Regions from separate parts of the Homo sapiens genome. Here all the other regions are linked to region 3. The links come from fine-mapping of genetic effects on gene expression. A gene starts in region 3. Each other region holds a variant in brackets. All regions are shown on one strand. Distances are from middle to middle. Region 1 overlaps SLC22A23 (solute carrier family 22 member 23). Region 2 overlaps SLC22A23 (solute carrier family 22 member 23). Region 3 holds the start of SLC22A23 (solute carrier family 22 member 23).

Region 1 (6,204 bases), 98 kb after region 3:
TCTCCCTCACAGCCTCTCCTCAGCCTGTGTCCTGGGGTGTCACAGTCCCCCGAGGAGGAAGCCTGGGCCCTGTCTTAGGTCCTGTTCTGGCGGTGGCCTGGCCCCTGGGACAGAGCCCTACAGACAATTGCTGACCATTCAATCCTGCTGTGACACATGTGCTGTGCTGCCGGAGCTCACCCATTGCTGCTGCGCCTGGTGAGGATGGGCCAGCCAGGGCTGCAGGAAAAGAAAACTGACTTTGGTAGAGGGGAGACCCAACTGCTTTTGTATTTTGTGTTAATTTAAAATGGCAAAGATATAAGTCACAAAAAACATGCCCCTGCCTGAGTGTGCTATGCCTCATGTCCCAGCTGAGCGGAGAGCCCATTTCTGATGCTCATCAGAAGTTGCAGGCAGTGGGCTGCGGGATGTCCCACCGAGTGCTGAGCAGGTCAAGTGGGAATGCAGATCAAAACTCTCTTCCTTGGGCTCTGAGCAGTCCAGAGTTTAAAGGTTGTTAATTGGCCAAGCCTATTTAATATTTCATTCACGCGCACATGGAAACAAAGAGGTGGTCATGGCAAAAGCTGGCACAGGACATTCCCCTGTCCCACCACCCCATTCCCCTTGCCCTCAAAATCTTTATTCGATGGTCCTTAATGTCTGCATTTCATTCATGCTTCCTCTCCTGGGTCCTGGAGGTCTACCTGCTTCTGGGACCTGCAGCCTTTCTCCATGGAGAGAGCTGGGCTCTGGTTCTCCCATCCTCACTCTGTGTAGTGGAGAGACGGAGAGGCCAGATTTGTAGATGGCATCTTGGGGGTTCTGCCTGGCCCCAGAGTTCCATTCCTTTGTTACCTTGCTAAGGAGATGGGATGGGGGGCTTTGCTGTGCTCATTAATCTCAATCCCATGGAGCCCAGGGCCATGAAGAGATCTCAGAAAGGTCATGGCCTTTGCCTGGTTAACAACTGTTTGGTTCAGGAAACAGTATCCTTGGTGGGTGTTTCAATCCCTGATGAAAATGCATGCTAATTTTTATTTTTTATTTTTTATTTTATTTTTTTTTTTTGTGAGACGGAATCTCGCTCTGTCGCCCAGCCTGGAGTGCAGTGGTGTGATCTCGGCTCACTGCAACTTCTGCCTCCCGGATTCAAGCGATTCTCCAGCCTCAGCTCCCGAGTAGCTGGGACTACAGGCGCATGCTACCACGCCCAGCTAATTTTTTGTATTTTAGTAGAGACGGGGTTTCACCATGTTGCCCAGGCTGGTCTCGAACTCCTGAGCTCAGGCAATCCACCCACCTCGGCCTCTCAAAGTCCTAGGATTACAGGCGTGAGCCACCACACCTGGCCGCTAATTTTTTTAAAGTTTGCTTAAAAAAAAAATTTATTTTTCCCTAGAGGACCTCACAGAGCCTTTAATTTGCTGACAAGCACATGAATCTGAAGGGAAGGTGTATAGAATGATCTGATAGGTTTCCTCCATGTTTCTACAGTCCTTGTGTGCACTCTGGCATGACCATCAGCATGTGGCAGTGTGGTGTTGGATTTGGAGTATTTTCCATGCCTGATTGTAAATCCCTCGGGGTAGGGACCATGTCTTCATCTCCCTAGGTCGTAGCGTGAGAACCGGCACGTGTTTCCCGCTTGACAGGTGTCCCAGCCGTGGAGGCCTTTGCGATCTGTTGAGATGGCCTCATGTTTCTTCTTGCCCCCACAATGTGATTCAGCAAAAAGACAACTGGGTAACAGACGCATGGAGCAGTATTTCTTGGATCCCATGGGGCTTGCTGTGTTGAGACTGGGCTTTCGAGTCTGAATTCAACTGAGAGTGAGGTGTTGCTGATGCAGAGAGACTCATGGGCCCAGCCCCTTGTCCTCTGTAAAGCTGGGAACAGAAGCTAAGTCTGGAGAGTCGAACCCCAGAGTTTTAGAGATAGAACTGATAGGCAGGTCGCCGTTCTCCTGGGACCCCAGTCTTTGTGGCCTTTCCCAGCAGCTGAACTTTGGACCCCTCTCTCTGTGACATCCTGCTCCTAACCTGGCCACATGATGCTGCTTGAGAATCCAGCCACAGCCTGAGCCAGGACAGCTCTCAAGAGAGGAGGACAGGCTGTGGGATGAACGGTCATGGCCACAGATGGAAGGGACCCAATTCCTTAAAAAAAAAAAAAAAAAGAATGATGTAGGAGTCTTTAAGCTTCTCTAAAGGGCAGGGCTTGGGGGTCCCTGTGTCCCTCTTATTGAAGCACGTTTCCCTCTCTTTTTTTTCAGTAGAAAGACAGTTGAGGGGGTGTGTTCTGTGTGACACTGCTGCAGGCTCCTTTGGGGGAGAAACCCTGATCTAAGTCACAGCTGGTTGGGGTCTTAAGTCCTTAAGCAGTTTAACTTGGGGTCAGGCATAAAATGGGGGGGGTGGGTAGAAATAGAAAATATACAAACAACAGGAATATAAAATGTGGGACACCTTCTGTGGCCTGGACATCCCTGCTGCCTCGAGCTCCCCGCAGCTGCTGATGTTCGCTAGCGCCTCTCGTCACCCCAGTACCACGCTCTGACCTTCTGTTCCTGCTGCACCTGTTCCCCACCCCAGCATCTTTGCCCGAGGGAAGGCTTCGTCCAATCCCGTTCCCGCCCTGGATGACCACGCCAGCTGTGGGCCTGCCTGGCCGAACGCAGGTCTCCATCAGAGGGGCCCGTCTGCATGGGGGTGCCTGCACACCTGTCGTGTCGACATCACTGAGGACCCCTTGGGGGCTCAGGCCAGCTTGAGGGCCTCTTTGTCTCCTAAATAACTGGGACAGTATCTGGGGCTTAGATGAGCAGTCAGCATAGCAATAAGTGACCGGAAATACAGAGATGTGTGGACTAAGACTGTTGAGGTTGACTC[G/A]GATGTGTGCAAAGGCCCCAAAGTGACCTCCCTCCACGGTTGAGCCGTTGCCTGAAACCCGACTATGAGAATGCAGTTCTGTATTTTAAGGCAGATGAGACAAATGCCCCCAAGAATGGCAATGCAGTGAGCTCTGTGACTCACCTCACCTCCTGGTGATTGAGCCTTTCTGATCCTCCTGAGTTTAAGGATCCTTGGGTGGATGGGTGGGCGGGGCACAGCTGAGGTCAGAGCTCTCAAAGGCCAATACTACGGACTTGCCTTTTTTGTTGTTGTTTTATTTGGAGGGGGGTGTTTGTTTTATCATGGTAAAATAAACATAGCATAAAAATTACCATTTTAACTACTTTTAATTGTACCATTCAGTGGCATTAAGTAATTCACATTTTTACACAGCCATCACCACCCTTCATCTCTAGAGGTCTTTTCATCTTCCCAAACAAACTCTGTCCCCAATAAACACTCCCCATTCCCATCCCTTAGTCCCGAGCAGCCACCCTTCTACTTTCTGTTTCTATGAATTTGCCTACCTAAGAACCTATTTAAGTGGATCATGCAATATTTGTCCTTTTGTGACTGGCTTACTTCACTTAGCATAATGTCTTCAGGATTCCCTCAGAACAAGGACCTCTAAGGACAAAAATAAGTGAAAATAAGAAAAAAAGAAAAAATGCTTCCTTTATACTATAGCATATGTTGGATATGGCCTCCCTTTTTAAGGCTGAGTTATATTTCATCCTCTGGATGGATCACATTTTCTTATCCATTCATCTGTTGATGGACACCTGCGTTGCTCCCACCTTTTGGCTGTTGTGAATATGCTGCCGTGAACATAGGTGTGCAAATATCATTTCAGGTCCTTGCTTTCACTTTTGGGGGGTTATACCCAAAAGTGGCATTGCTGAGTCAGATGGTAATCCTCTGTTTAATTCTATGAAGAACAGGGATATTGTTTTCTCCAGTTGGCTGCACCGTTGTACATTCCCACCAGGAATGTACTGGTGCACCAGGGTTCCAGTTTCCCCACATTCTTGTCAGCACTTGTTATTTCCTGTTTGTTTGACAGCAGCTACCATCCTGATGGATGTGAAGGGCTACCACATTGTCGCTGTGATGTACATTTCCCCGATGACAGTGACGTTGAGCATCTTTCCATGTGCTTCTTGGCCATCTGTATGTCCTCTTCAGTTTTTGTTTTGTTTTAAACTTGCACTCAGATGGATAGTTATATGTGTGACCTAAGGAGAACCACTCAGTGATGAAGAATAAACGTGGCAACACCAGCTAGCATAGCTTAGCAGCATCTGTTATCTGCCTGAGGGCGGTGAATTCCCAGTGAGATGCTCATTCTAGTACTGTCCTAGAATGAAATGAGTCTCAGCTGGCATGTTCCTCGCTCTCCTTCTCGGTGCCCATCTTTTTCTTAGTTGAAATGATCTGTGATTCTGGATGCAGCCCGTGTTGTTCTGGGACGTCTCTGTATTGCACTAAATTAATAAAGGAGCTTTCATTTTTGCAGTTATGTATTTTGAATTCCCTATTCTCTCTTCATCCTGAATGACTGAGACTTGATTAGACATCGGCACAGCGCACCTGACATGGCGCTGACATGGAAATGCAATGGGTGGCAGCTCGGGGTGCAGACCCCACCCAGGATGCTGTGCCCGAGGGGAGCCAGGGCTTCCCTTTGAAATGGCAAAGGTTCCCACCATCCCTCCAGCCCCCGATGGCAGATCCCTTCTCACTTCTTCCTCACTGGAGCTGTGACTCCTTCCGGTGTTTTCCTTGGGTTGATGAAACAGAAACTCTCCTGGGGCCTTTTTTATTTTATTTTTTAATTTTATTTGTGGTAAGAACATCTAACATGAGACCCACCCTCTTAACAGGTTTTTTCAGTGTACAGCACAGTATCGTGAACTATAGACACAATGTGTGCAGCAGAGTTCCAGAGCTTATTCATCTCGCCTGCCTGAAAGCTGATGCTAGTTGACGAGCAACTCCCCATGTCTCCCTCCCTCTACCCCCGGCAACCATCAGCCCACTCTTTGATTTTCTGAATTTGCCTATTTTTACATGCCTCATGTAAGTGGAATCATGTAGTATTTGTCCTTCTGTGACTGGCTTATTTCACTTAACATAATTCCTCCAAGTTCATCCACGTGTCGTACGTGTCAGAATTTCATTCGTTCTTAAGCGGAATCATATTCTATTGTATTTTTCACTGTGTTTCGTGTGTCCCTTCACCTATCAGTGGACCTCTGCGTTGTTTCCATATCTTGGCTGTTGTGGATAACACTGCAGTGAACGTGGGAGCGCTCACGTCAAGTGCTTTGAGATCCTAATTTCAATTCTTTTGGATAAGTACCTGGAAGTAGAATCACTGGATCATATGGCAGTTCTAGTTTTAGTTTTTTGAGGAACTGCCATACTGTTTTCCATAATGGCTGCACCATTTTTGCATCCCTACCAACAGTGTTTAAAGGTTCCAATTTCTCTCCATCCTGGGGACTTTGATACTGAGAACCTAACCTGTCTAGCCTCTTCTGCACTGGCCGCCTTTGCAAGAGCTGGTTGCCTCTCTGAAAACTCTCCTCCCAGGCCTCTTCCCTTCCCCTCACCCACATGGCAGGACAGTCCTACTTCCTTTTCCCTTAAGGGAAGATTCAAATGCTGCTTCTTTGGTGAAGTCTTCCCCAGGCCTCGTCCCTTTCTTTGCATTCCTGTAGCACAGAACCCCATCTGTGTCTTATAGGCACGTGTCTCTTCATCAGACTGTGAGCCCCTTGAGGCCGGTGGTGTGGCTTCATCTCGGCATCTCCCCTGGCATGGTGCTACCTCATCCTCCTTGCTGAATAAGTGAATGAAATGCATTCATTATACACAGCCGCCTTCTGTTTTCCATTATTTGTCATTATTCAGTGTGTTCTGTGAACCAGGAGCTGGGCATGGCTTGTTGAATAAGAACACAGTCCCTAAACTAAGGAGCTTTTAGGCTGGTAACCAAAAAGGGAAATTCTAAATTTTTTTATGATAAGCTTTTAGATATCTTTTTGATATTTAGAATGAAGTAAACACAGTAGATGTAGTCCAATTTTGGAAATCATTTAAGACCTGAGCCTAATTGAGCAGGTAGAAAGCCAGGAAGAACACACCTACTTTGTATTTGCAGTCCTTTCCTCATGCTAATTGATAAGGCGATTAATCCTTACACTATTGCTGAGCCACAACCCCATTTAAAAATAAAAATTAGGAAAGCTGTCTGGATAATTATTAGCAAAGACTTTACAGAGGCTGGGATAAGTCCTCCAGCTGGTTGTTTGCACTGGGAGTT
Region 2 (6,204 bases), 110 kb after region 3:
GGAAAATATCTATCTATAAATACATTTATATTTCTAAGAGATCATCATGGAGATTTTTTTTCTCGACCCAGGGAGGGTTGCTTTGTTGCATAGAACAGGGTGTGACGAACCCACGAGCAGCATGCTTGTCTTCCTCCCGTCTTTTAAGTTCAAAGGCTTCTCACTGTACCTAATAAGTCGATGTCTTTACTGATATTATTTCTGATTTCCAGTTTGAAGATGAGAAAACTGGTGGTTATCAAGGCCTCTCTATTCATCCCATTTTATTTGAAGAGCTACTGGATAGTATTTGGAGGGAGACTTTTTTTTTTTTAGCTGGGGAGGGTGGCGGCCACAAAGACAGGGAGCTGTTTCCAAGCAGATAGAGGGTAGGAGCCCAAAGATAAGGATTTGAATACTGCCATGTGGAGAGGCGCTGGTTTTTTTTGTTTGTGTTTTTATAAACTCGGTAGTAGGAATATCTTTTATTGTTTTTCCTGTTGCCTGTTTAAAGGAAAGAGTGTAGCACAAATTGTCCAAATGCCTTGTGCTTTTAGGGGCAGAGTTAGATACTGTCACCCTCTGGCCCTCAGGTCCTGCTTTGTCTGTTCTGCGTGTTGTCTACCCATGAACTAATGAGGCTGCCTGCTTAATTGACCTGGAAAGACAAGTGTCAGTTGAAGAAGATGATGTTGAATTATGAGATTCAGAAACCCATTACATGGCTACTTGGCCCAGCATAGTACCTTCCCCATTTGTTAGACATTCACTATTTGATTAATTAGTAAGAAATTAGAGATGGTGTGGATCATTGAAATCTAGAGCAACCCCTCCAACACCTTGACTTCCCCCTAACACTCTTACTGGGACATCAACTAAAAACAGACTGTGTTTCAGTTCATCCATTGCTTTACCCACTAATAAATGGTTCACCCATCCTTTCTTGAGTGCCTGCTGGATGCTGGGTCTCTTGAGGATGGAAAGACATTGCCTTGCCTTTGAGGCACAGAGTCTCTGCTATATCGATGGATCTGACCACAGTACAGTGGTCACTACAATCGAGGAACTTATTAAATGCAGCAGGGACATGGAAAGAGAATCTGAATCTTCTTGAGATTTTCTTTTGTTTACCCAACCCACCTCATGTAAAGATGTAAAGGTACACAAGTCAAGAGAAGGAAAAGTCTGTGAGTGCCTTTAGTCACTTGCTCCTCCGTAAATGTGCACTTCCTGTTGAATTTACCTTTGAAGGGTCCTGAAAGGAGTGTCTTTGCCCATCCAATGCCCTGACTGCCTCTCCGTTGGGAGTGCACCATGCTATGTGTTTGTGTGAGCCTGTGTGTGTGTTTTGCTTAGAAGTTGCATGTGGCTCTTGTCTTGGCCATGCCAACTCTAAGGAGAAAACACATGTGATCACCATCGAAATTTCCACAATCCAATCAGGCCTGCCAAGGAGGTTTATGGGTCCAGATAAGTGGCTTAGCTACCTGTCACATCAAAGGATTCAGTCAACCGACCCAAGGACCAGCATTTTTCCTTGTGCCTTCTTAGAGAAAGTAAAGCAGCCCACGCATAGGAGACCTGGAAAAGTTGGTAGTCTGGGATCTGTAAGGAGCCTCTGCATGAGGCTTCCTCGATGCTGTCATGCTCTGGGCCAGAACTGGGGTCCTGGGAAACACTGGTGGTAGAAGGGAGAGTCTGCCTCTACTAAGAAGGTGGGGGAATGGTGTGGCTTCCTGAGGAGGGAGCTCTTGGGAACAGCAGCCCTGGAAGCCAGAAATCACGTGAGTACATTTGGGTGGCAGTGCACAGGGCAGAAGAGCCACATCACAGCTTCGGTAATGGGACGAGGCGAGCACAGCCCTTTACCTGGAAAGGCAGTGGTTGACTGATCTAGTGATTTGGGAGCAAAAATTCCAGTAGCCCTAGTCTTGTGATTTGCAGCTGAACTGTTTTCCTAATAGTCTTATACATGTGATTTTGTAAAGCATAATGAACACCTCAATCAAGCAGGTGACATCGTGAATCCCAGCATGAGGGTCACGGCATTTCCCATTGAGTGGGATTCAGGCCTGAAGCCAAACCGCTCAAGCCAGATGTTGAGACACAGGAAGTTATTTTAACTAAAATGCTGTAGAAGAGGGCAAGATTGGCAGCTGGGAGAATCAGGCAGCACCTCTTCATTGGGGAGCTGGCTGTGGTATAGGAAATCTAACACAGACGGAGTTTCCCTTTTTTTGTTCAAATGCTGGAAAACCAGGTTTTGGTTTAAGCAGCCAGGTAAAGGCCCACAGTTATGTGCCTTTTATGGCCCTTTGCCATCTTGCCTTCAAAATCTCCAAGAATAACAGATTATTCCTGTGAGCAGGGAAGTAATAATACTTACATGTAATTTTAGATTAGGCGGAGCACTCACAGGTGAGACTTTGCATCTCTTGACACGGTCTGGTCGTTGCTGAAGAACAGGGTAAAAAGTCTTACTTAAAATTTCAGGCAAAAAATGAATATAATCACTGTAGTATTTTCATACATATTTTGACCCTGTTCCTCAGCAACAAAGTCCTGTTGGGACAAGCTGACCACTGGGGGTTCTGGTAGCAAGGTGCAGGTCACGGGGGCGACTGATCTTCTCCCGGGTGTTTGCAGGGCACGCGGCTTGTCCATGCGTATCCAGGGAGCGTCTCTAAACTGCTGTTGGCTCTGGGTTTGCACTATGTGCTTTTCCTTCACTCAGATTAATTAAAGAATTGTCATTTCTCTGCTTTTTGAACACCTGTAAGCGACACCATTTATCCTCAGACCTCCAGGAAGCTTGGCAGTTTTCATATGCTGTGAGAGTATGATTTAAGGACTCAAGTGAGTCCATTTTCCATGATTCAGGTGAGTCCCAGTAGCAGGTTTCTCATTTTCAGATGGAAAAACAAGAATGGCAGAGATCAGAGCCTTTTCTCCCTTTTGTTATGGCCGGGGCTTGGTGTGTGCTCACCTGCTCTCTTTCTCTCTGTCTGTGTATTTGTGTGTCTGCAAGTATGCCTATGTGTGTATGTGGCCGTGT[A/G]TGTGAATGGGTCAATATGTGTCTGTGTGTGTCTGTGCATGCATGCCGGTGAGCTTCTGTGGCTGTGTCTGTGTGTGAGTGTGTCTGTGCATGTCTGTATGTGCTTGTGTTTGTGGCTGTGTGTGTGTGTGTCTGTGCATGTCTGTGTGTGCATGCTTGTAAGTGTCTATGGCTGTGTGTGTGTGTGTGTGTGCATGTCTGTGTGTGTATGTTTGTGAGTGTCTGTGTGTCTGTACATGTCCGTGTACGTGGTTTTCACTGTCAGAGCAGCAGGACAAGAGGCACTCTCACATCTCCTTCCACAACCTGCCCTGTTCCTCCCTTCCTTATCTGTGGTCCTGGTGGGCCTGGTTTTGCCATGGCCTCTGCCACCTCTCAGCACTCCAGCAGCCCTGCCTGGGGAGGGGAGGCCATGGAGTGCTTTCGCCTTGACGCCCATTTCAGAAACGGAGCAGCCTTACCAGTCGGGTGGTGGACAGTCATCCACCCAGAGCATCCCTCCCTGCTCTCCTGTTTGGTGTGGCCTAGATGGGAACTCCATCTGCCTCGAGGTGGTCCCCATGACTGCAGCAGCTCAGGCCTTGGCCCTGCTGCCCATCCTCCTGCTCACCTGGGGGTCATGTACATTTGATGAGAATGCATTAGAAACCTGGGTTTCCTGGCTCAGTCCTGAATGAAGTAGCAAGTCTCCTCGGGGACAGTTTTGATACCAAATAGCAGAAATATGGCTCCATAGGGCCCACCCTGTGGTACAGTGTGGCTGGGGGAGGAGATGGGTTACAGAATCTTTGAAGTGGCCAGTGACGTGTTCTTAGGCGAAAGCCAGGAAAGGTCGAGGGGAGAGAGGTTTCCAGAGCAGTGGGAGGGGTGGGCGGGAAGCCACAGAGAGGGCTGTTGACTGAGCCTGGATGACTGCTCATTAGTCCTGACCGTCCAGTACTTGTGGGCTGAACGTTCCCCGCTGCCTGGCACGCTCAGGGCAACCCCCAGGATTTGTGTTCATTGCCCAGCTCAGCCACCCCCACCCCATAAAATCTCAAGACTTGTCTTTCTGCCAGCACTAGCTGATAACATCAGATTATTTTTCCCCAACCCTTTTCCTTCGCCCCTTCGTTTTCCACCCTAAGAGGCTAAATTGCCTGGCATTTTCCACCGCACTCCGATTACACTGGACAAAGGGCCATCCGGCTAGAATGCTAATAGGGAGATTTTTTTTCCATCCTGCCTGAGCCTCACAAAAGCTGGGGGCTTTAACTGCGAGGGCCTCTCTAGCTCTCACTTTCTTTCCTGTAATTCTATACAAACGGCATTAGCCTTTTATGAGGTCTTTGTTTGTGGCCATTCTGAGGGTACTTTTCATCTCACATGGGTTTCTTGAATTTTAAGTGGAATTTGTTCAAATCGGCCTGGCCTTGCTTCTCCTGGAGGAAATGCAGGCTCACCATTATAAGTTAGTAAATTCAAAAGGGATTTTTTTTTTTAAGAAAAAAATCTTTCTCTTTCACCACAAATTAAATGCGTCAATAAGAGAAGATGATTAAAAATTCAAGTGCCCTTTGAAGATACAAGATGATTGACCTCAGAATGGGAGTGAGAAGGGCAGTGAGACCAGCTCCCCATTACCACCAAGAAATTCCATTTGTTTTCTCTCTCTGATGTGAAAATAACTCCGTCTCCCTTGAGGAATCTGCTCTCATAATAAAAATCACCATTTGCATTTTTTAAGTAATAATGCTGATTTTTCTGTTAGAAACTGAAGGATAACTAAAACATGCTGGCTCTGACAACCAGTTTGACGAATGGATCAGTTAATCCAGCCTGCAGCTGTCAAAGCTTCAGAGCAGGCATGGGCCAAGTTTTCTGCAAAGGGCCAGAACATGAATATTCTGGGCTGTGCAGGCCATACGGTCTCTGCCCCACCTACTACTCCCTGCTACTGCAACAGCAGCCATGGACAATCTGGAGGTGAATGAGTGTGACCGCATTCCACAAAAGCCGCATTTGTCGACACTAAAATTTCAATTTCACATAAACTTCACACAAGAGATATTATTCATCTTTTGGTTGTCTTGAACCATTTAAAAATGTCCATTCTTAGGGACGAGCTGAATAAAATCAGGCAGTGCATTGTACAAAAACAGCAGCCTTCAGCAGGATTTGGCCCGAGGGTCATAGTTTTCCAACCCTACTTTAGAGCAGCTTTTAAAACTGTAGTTTATGACACATTAGGGCTTGGGTTAAGGGTTATAGAATCCATCGGGTGGGTCCTGCCCAGCATTTTTAAAGAAAAAAATAGAATTAAGTGCATCACACACAATAAGGGTTAAGTATCGTTTCATGAAAATTTGGGGTGTGTGTGTGCATGCATGCTGAGTCACTATGCTGTGCAGTACTGGGAAATAATTTTCTATCAACCATGGTCCTACTCATCCACCAGACTTTTATGTGCTTCAAAGGACACAAAGACCAAGAACCAAGGGACTGTGAATGTACTTAGCCCCCAAGAGGGGATGAAGGCGACCGTGATCATCTGCCTTCGTGTATCACAGGAATCAAGAGCCCTGGAAGAGGTGCTCTGTCCCAGGTCTGTGATCAGAGAGCGATGGGAGCAATAAGCCACCACCTTATCTTTCCTGAAGATATCAGGTTGCTTGAGGCACTGCCCACTTCATATGAATTTCCTGCTTTCATGTTAGGCTTATTTCTGAGTAGTTCAAATAATTCATCTTCTCCACTCTGCTCTTCCACCTCCTGAGATTCAGTGATATTTAAAGCACTTGGGTGGTTGAGTATTCAATATTCTTCACCAAACAGAAATACAATAGTGTGTGGGAAGAAGGGCCATGCATTTTAATCTGATGAAAACAGCTCATGCCAGCTGTGACGGTTAGCCTAACTGCAAACTAGGCTGTGAGGAGGTGGAGGAGGAAGGAAGGTATATTTTGGTACTATAATAATTCAGGGCCTGCAGGGGATGCCCTATGGTTGAACCACATTCTAGAGAGGGTTCCAGAAACTCCAGGGGCCACAGGGCTTGCCTCGGGGTTGGCATTGGGATTTGGTGGTAGGAGTCAATTTGGCCGAAGAGTCCTCGGGTAGGTGGGATAGGGAGAGAGAGGCTGCCTCTTAGGTCCCCAGGAAGTGGGGAGGAAGAAAGACAGGTAGGAGAC
Region 3 (6,204 bases):
TATGATAGGTTTTGTAAATGTCAAATTTCTTGTTAAAGAGTCAGACTTGATATTCCAAAAGGCAAAGGATGATATAAATAATATTCAAGTATACACAACTAGAGTTGGAAATAATTTCAATCACTTTCTCCCACCCTCCCAAAATCAAGGTAACCTAATTTTCAAATAGTTATTTGAAAGGAAGAAATCAAGCTGCAGTTTAAAAAAAAAATGACACAGGATATTCTAAAATGTGATATATCTATCTATAATTCAAGTATAAAGACCATGAATAATCAGAGAAACCAACGTGAAATACATTTGGTATGACTTGCAGCGTACATTTAAAGTTAATTAACCCTGACTTGAATTCCTTAGAATTAACTTTTACAGAATTATAGAGGATTTAAAATTAGGTTTCCATCAATTTTAGAGGTAAGCTAAAACATTTTTTCTCCTGTTATCTCCAAGGAAATAAAACTGTTCAAATGTATTGGTGATTAGGTTATGACTTTCATTTCCTTTCCTTATTTTCTCAATTTTTAGAAAACTATAAACTGGTAGATTCTTTAACATACTTTCAAAGGAAAAGGGAATGACTCAGCTTCTTTATTAAGATCACTGGGTTCAGGATACTCACATAAATTTAGGGTCACAAACACAGCTACTTTTGGGGGCCAAATGTCATGCATGAGGGGCATGTGTCAGGCAGGGATGAGGGCAAGCTGGAGAGTGCCTGCTCATTTACTGCAGTCCAAGAAAGCACGGTCCTGCAAACATGGGGCATCAAAAGGACAATGGCTTCTGCTATGATGTTCAGAGAAGCCCAAAACACATTTTTTTCTAAGTATTCAATCTCCCAATTTTGAAATGTTAGCAATTATTTTCCTGAAAACATTGCCTATGGTCTGTGAGCTGCATTTGGCCTATAAGCCACCATCTGCAAGCCAATACTGCCCAAGAGAAGATAATATTGGGAGCTAATCCAGTAACCACAATGCCTTACAACAAGACATATAATTGTCAAATTCATTTCAAGTCTCATGTTGGCTGATCTGAGCACCATCTTTGAGAGATGAACAAACACAAAAAGGTTGCTTGATGATTTAAGAAACAAAGTAAACAGTTTGATGATTTGAATAGACAGTATCATCAAGTGATTAATAACTTGATACACTCATTTATTTGACAAAGATGTATTGAGTGCCTTGCATGTACCAGGCACTGTTTTAACCACCAAGCATACAGCTGAGCACAAGGCACCTATCCCCGAAGGTGCTTACATTCTAGAGGCAGAACGTAAATCTAACTAAGCAAACAAGAAAAATAGCAGCTGATGATAATGCTCATTCAGAAAATTAAAAACAGTAATTTTTTAACAGGTGTCTGGCTTTCCTATCCTGGTCCATGGATCTCAAACCTCACCCACTGAGGCTGTCAGAGTGTCAAATTCTTCCTCTTTACTCCTTTTGCTCACGTTATGAGATCACTTGTGGTATGTTTTAATAAATTGAAGGCCACTTTATTTTAAAGTAGTTACACTTTAATCTTCTTGACTAGATTTGGTGGAAATATCAATCCAGGAGGAATTTAGGGAAACCTCTAATCTAATCAACAGCTTAATTACAATGCCTGGGTCAGTGCTGCAGCTAGTTAATTTCAAACATTTTATGTTGCCTCCTTTTAGCTTCAGTTTTAGAGGATACCATTTTCCAGTGTGTCCCTAAATTCTAAGAATGTACCATTTGAGGATTTTTACCACCTTTTGCGAACAAAGACTAATAACATCTTCACAATGAAACTCTTTTCCTAGGGCCAGGGCTTCTCCCACGTAAAAATGCACATTAACAAACATCTTTGTAAACTCTTCCCTATAGTTGCCCCTGTATGATGAAATGGAGAAATCCGGTAATGTCCAGTCAGAAAATCTGGGTTCAAAACCAGATATTTGGCTCAGCTGGGGACCAACTCTTTGATCTGGTAGTCAGTCACCTGATCCTTGCTGTTTCTCTTTGAAAGCCCACTTCTTGGGGCGCTGAATGTGAGGACTGAGTGAGAGTGTGAATTTGAAAGCCAACTCTGAAACGCTGGCTATGATAGTTATTCTGATTGGAAGGGCCATTAAGGTCAATGGCAATGCTCCTTTTGTGATCAGTTACAAGAAAACAAATGGGTCCTTGTGACTGTGGGGGAAGGGAGGCAGAGCCAGACACAAAGTGGACCTCTTCTGGAAAATCAGCCACTGAAAGGAAAATAAATAAAATCCGTAAAGTTATATTTCAATTCAAAAAGAAATGTGGATTGTATGTAATGGCAAGAGGAGCACTGGTAATAATACATGTCTAACATTCATTGCGCACTTACTCTGTTCCAGGCATGGAGGTCAGAACTTTGCATGTATTAGCTCTTCAAATGAGGGGAGGAGAGGGAAGGAAAAGAAAAGTTAAGCTAATAAATAATGTGAAGTTGAAAAATTACCACGTACACAACGTGCACTATCGTGTCCCCCCCCGCCCCAAGCCCCCAGCTCTTTATATATGTGGTTTCCAGACCCATTTCTCAGCGGTCTGGTGTCTTTTGCAGCCCTTAGGGCCCCTTCCGCCCATTGTTATCTAATCACCCCTTCTCGGCCACGCAGGAAGGTCCACAACCTCCCCTGTCCCCCAAGACCCGCCCCCCGGCAGCCTTCAGAAATAGTTCTCTGGTACGTATGTGCCAGCATTTTATGCAGTAAACACATGTTGCCCTTAACACTGAACTGCAGGTTAAAAATGTATTCCACTAAATTGTGCAGCGGTTAGCTGAGCAAATAATGAAAATGCAAAAGAATACATTCAGTATATGGAGCTTAGAATATATCCTTTTGGAAAGCTAAACATTTTTTTTTTTTTTGCCCCAAATAAGACTAGAAATGGATTGCTCCATTTAAGACTTCCATTAATAAACTTCTCAGAATATGAAATGCCTCCAAAATGTGGGGACGCTGGGTTGAAAGGTGCCGGATAATTCTCTTTGGTGCGTGCGCTGGGTGCAGGAGGAAATATGCTAATGTAGCCGTTTGCCGCAGGGCTGGTGTTATTTATACAGCGCTGGCTGGGCAAGGTTGGCGCTGGAGCAGGAGAGGAGGGAGAGGTTTGTCTTCTTGTGTGAGAGTATAGATGTGTGCGCCTGTGCACACGGCGTTCCAAACGTGAATACAAGATCTTAGGGAGGGGGTGGGGAATGCCATCACGTTTATACTGTGTGTATTATAACTTGTGTTGGAGATATATCCCAGCATCGTGCTTACATCGCATGCACTTAGGAGTGGGGGAAGAAATGGCGATTTGGGAGTGGGTGCGGCGGGTCGCAGGTGGCCAGACACTGCGGGGGACTGGCGACCTGAAATTGGCAAAGGCGCCTCCTTGACCCTGCTCCACGGACACAAAAATCAACCTTATTCGCTCCTGGAAAAAGCGCAGAGGGTTGTTCCCGAAGGCTGAAGACCCTCGGGCTTGGGACTGGGAGCGGGGCGCGGGCAGCGGGACCGCCGGGCACCTCTGAAGAGACAGAGGTCACGGAGACCTGGCGCGCGCGGAGTGGGTGGGGGGCCCGCGCGGCTGCGGGAGCCCAGCCTCAGAGAAGACCCGGCCCACACGTTCTCAGCGCACGCCGACTTTGCCGGGACCCGTCGCCGGCCGGCGACCCCTGCTACGCGCGTCTCCTCCTCCCCCGCCCCGCCCGGCGCGAAACGGGCAACGGGCAGGGGATCCTCCAGCCAGGCGGGCCCGGGGTGTCCCGTTTCCCCCGCCCCCCTCCCGTGGATCCCGGGCGGCGGCGGCCGCGCGTCCGGGCTGGAGGGGGCGCTCGCGAGCAGGAGCCGAGCGCAGCAGGTGCCGCGGTTACCTCCACCTCGGCGGGGGGAGAGGGGGCGGGCCGGGGGGCAGGGAGGAGGGGGAGGAGGAGGAGGAGGAGGAGGAGTGGGGCCGGCTCCAGGAGCTGGAGAGCGCGGCCGGCTCGGCAGGCTGGGTCCAGAGCTCGCGGCTTCCGGGAGGCGCCCGAAGTCGGAGAAATACAGCGCGGCCACCCCGGGAGCAGCAGCCTTTGCCCGCACCGCCGCCCGCAGGGCCCTGAACCGCCGGCAAGGGCGCGGGCCGGGCGCGGCGCCGGCTCCTCCTCCTGCCGCGTCCGGCGCGGAGCAGCGGAGAGCGGCGGGCTCGGCAGCCGGCGCCCGGGCCGCGGAACTGATGAGCCGCGGCGGCTGAGGGCCCGGCCGGCCTCTGCCCGCCTCTGCCCGGCGCCCGAGCGGGGCCGCAGCGCCCGGGGCGCGGGGTCCGGCGGGTGACATGGGGGCGGCCTGACGCACCCGGAGCCGCCGAGCGCTCTCTCTCGAGCCGCGGGCCCTCCTCGGCGGCAGCGGCTGCAGGCGCCTGGCCCGGCGCGCTGTGCCCGGGGCGCCCGCGGAGCCTCCGCCGCGCTCTATGCGCCTCTGCGGGAGCCGCGGGCCCGGGCCATGGCCATAGACCGGCGGCGCGAGGCGGCGGGCGGCGGGCCTGGGCGGCAGCCGGCCCCGGCCGAGGAGAACGGCTCCCTGCCGCCCGGGGACGCGGCGGCCTCGGCGCCCCTCGGGGGACGCGCGGGCCCCGGCGGCGGCGCGGAGATCCAGCCGCTGCCCCCACTGCATCCTGGAGGCGGCCCGCACCCGAGCTGCTGCTCCGCGGCTGCGGCCCCGAGCCTCTTGTTGCTGGACTATGACGGGTCGGTGCTGCCCTTCCTCGGGGGCCTGGGCGGGGGCTATCAGAAGACCCTCGTGCTGCTCACCTGGATCCCGGCGCTGTTCATCGGCTTCAGCCAGTTCTCGGACTCGTTCCTCCTGGACCAGCCCAACTTCTGGTGCCGCGGGGCCGGCAAAGGCACCGAGCTGGCAGGGGTCACCACCACAGGCCGGGGCGGGGACATGGGCAACTGGACCAGCCTCCCCACCACCCCCTTCGCCACTGCCCCCTGGGAGGCTGCGGGCAACCGGAGCAACAGCAGCGGCGCGGACGGAGGCGACACACCACCCCTGCCATCCCCTCCGGACAAGGGGGACAACGCCTCCAACTGTGACTGCCGCGCATGGGACTACGGCATCCGCGCCGGCCTCGTCCAGAACGTGGTCAGCAAGGTAAGGGCCGCAGCCGCCCAGTCCCTCCAACCCTCTCCCTGCAGACCGAGGTCCAAGCCCGAGCCAGCGGGAGAACCGAAGTCCCCAAAGTGGTGGTGCTAGAGTGTGTGTAGGGCATTCCGCATTGGCTTAATCTCCTTCCGTCCCCCAAACCACATGCCTTTACTTGGGTGTAAAGGGAGCACCATAGCCTTTACTAGTTTGCACCCAAACTCCTGTCCCAGTACGCGGATGGAAAGCGCGCCCTTCCCCCACCCTCGGGGCGAGGCAGCTGACCTGTCACCAGCCCCCTCTGGAGGAGTCGGACTGGCGTCGTTCAAGGTCTGCTGGGGGAGTCGGGACCACAGCCCTGTTCTGCCCGGCTAGTTGTCCCTGGGTCTCCCACAAAGCAATAGTCTTCCATCTCGCACTTGATTTTGACACAGGTAAAGCCTACTAAAGAACTGGAGAGCCAGAGAAGCAAAGACTCCTGCAAATCCCCAACCCGCAGCCGATGCTTAGTCCTCCCCAAAGATATCTGACTTTAGGCTTTGCTACCCCAGTGTCTCCTCCCATGTTTTCTCAGCACTTCAGTAAACATCACTACAGTATAGGAAGGACGCGGAGAATATGTCATTTGGGTGTTCCCCGGCCGTCACCGCTCTTACACAGCAGCTGCTTTGGGCTGAGGCACTGAGAACGGGGGTGTGCTTTAGCTGAAACATGCACCTTGTCCTCTGAGTCCTGTAGCTAAAGCTCCCTTGCAGAGGTATTGCGTGGTGTGAAATGTAGCAGAAGGGAGTTGTGAGACAAGTGTGAAGGCCTAAACACAGAGTGGGCAATGGTGGACACTCAATGCCCCTAGACAGCTGTAATTTTATTCTTAACATATAAGAGATATCAAGACATTTGTAGTTTTGCTCCTTGTGTCTAAACTAATTAATTCACATTTTAAAGTAAATACAGACTCTCCTCCACCCCACCCGCTACCCATTCTGGGCTGTTCTGGCAGAGTTTTAAATGCTTTGTCGAAATGTATGAAATTGGACAGTTTTAAATAGTCAATGTGCATGTAACCTCCTCCCCCCGTGTGCATTGGT

Evidence for each region. PIP is the estimated chance that this variant, and not a neighbour inherited with it, causes the effect.
Region 1: its variant is fine-mapped to the expression of SLC22A23 in whole blood (TOPMed, PIP above 0.99).
Region 2: its variant is fine-mapped to the expression of SLC22A23 in whole blood (TOPMed, PIP above 0.99).

Annotation. Positions count from the first base shown.
Region 1 is chr6:3,357,254-3,363,457 of GRCh38, reverse strand. The region is part of intron 3 of SLC22A23 (solute carrier family 22 member 23); the gene reads left to right. Among named protein-coding and RNA genes, the nearest start is that of SLC22A23, 97 kb to the left of the region's middle. The variant G/A (reference allele first, on the strand shown) is at 2,874.
Region 2 is chr6:3,349,295-3,355,498 of GRCh38, reverse strand. All of the region lies in intron 3 of SLC22A23 (solute carrier family 22 member 23), which reads left to right. Among named protein-coding and RNA genes, the nearest start is that of PSMG4, 93 kb to the right of the region's middle. RefSeq lists an enhancer at 3,476-6,204. The variant A/G (reference allele first, on the strand shown) is at 3,035.
Region 3 is chr6:3,454,827-3,461,030 of GRCh38, reverse strand. SLC22A23 (solute carrier family 22 member 23) reads left to right here and starts at 3,981. Exons shown (of 10, transcript NM_015482.2): 1 at 3,981-5,125. The coding sequence starts at 4,472. It overlaps LOC643327 (a long non-coding RNA gene), which reads right to left and starts at 5,328. Exons shown (of 2, transcript NR_147844.1): 1 at 4,780-5,328. RefSeq lists silencers at 3,704-3,923, 3,984-4,213.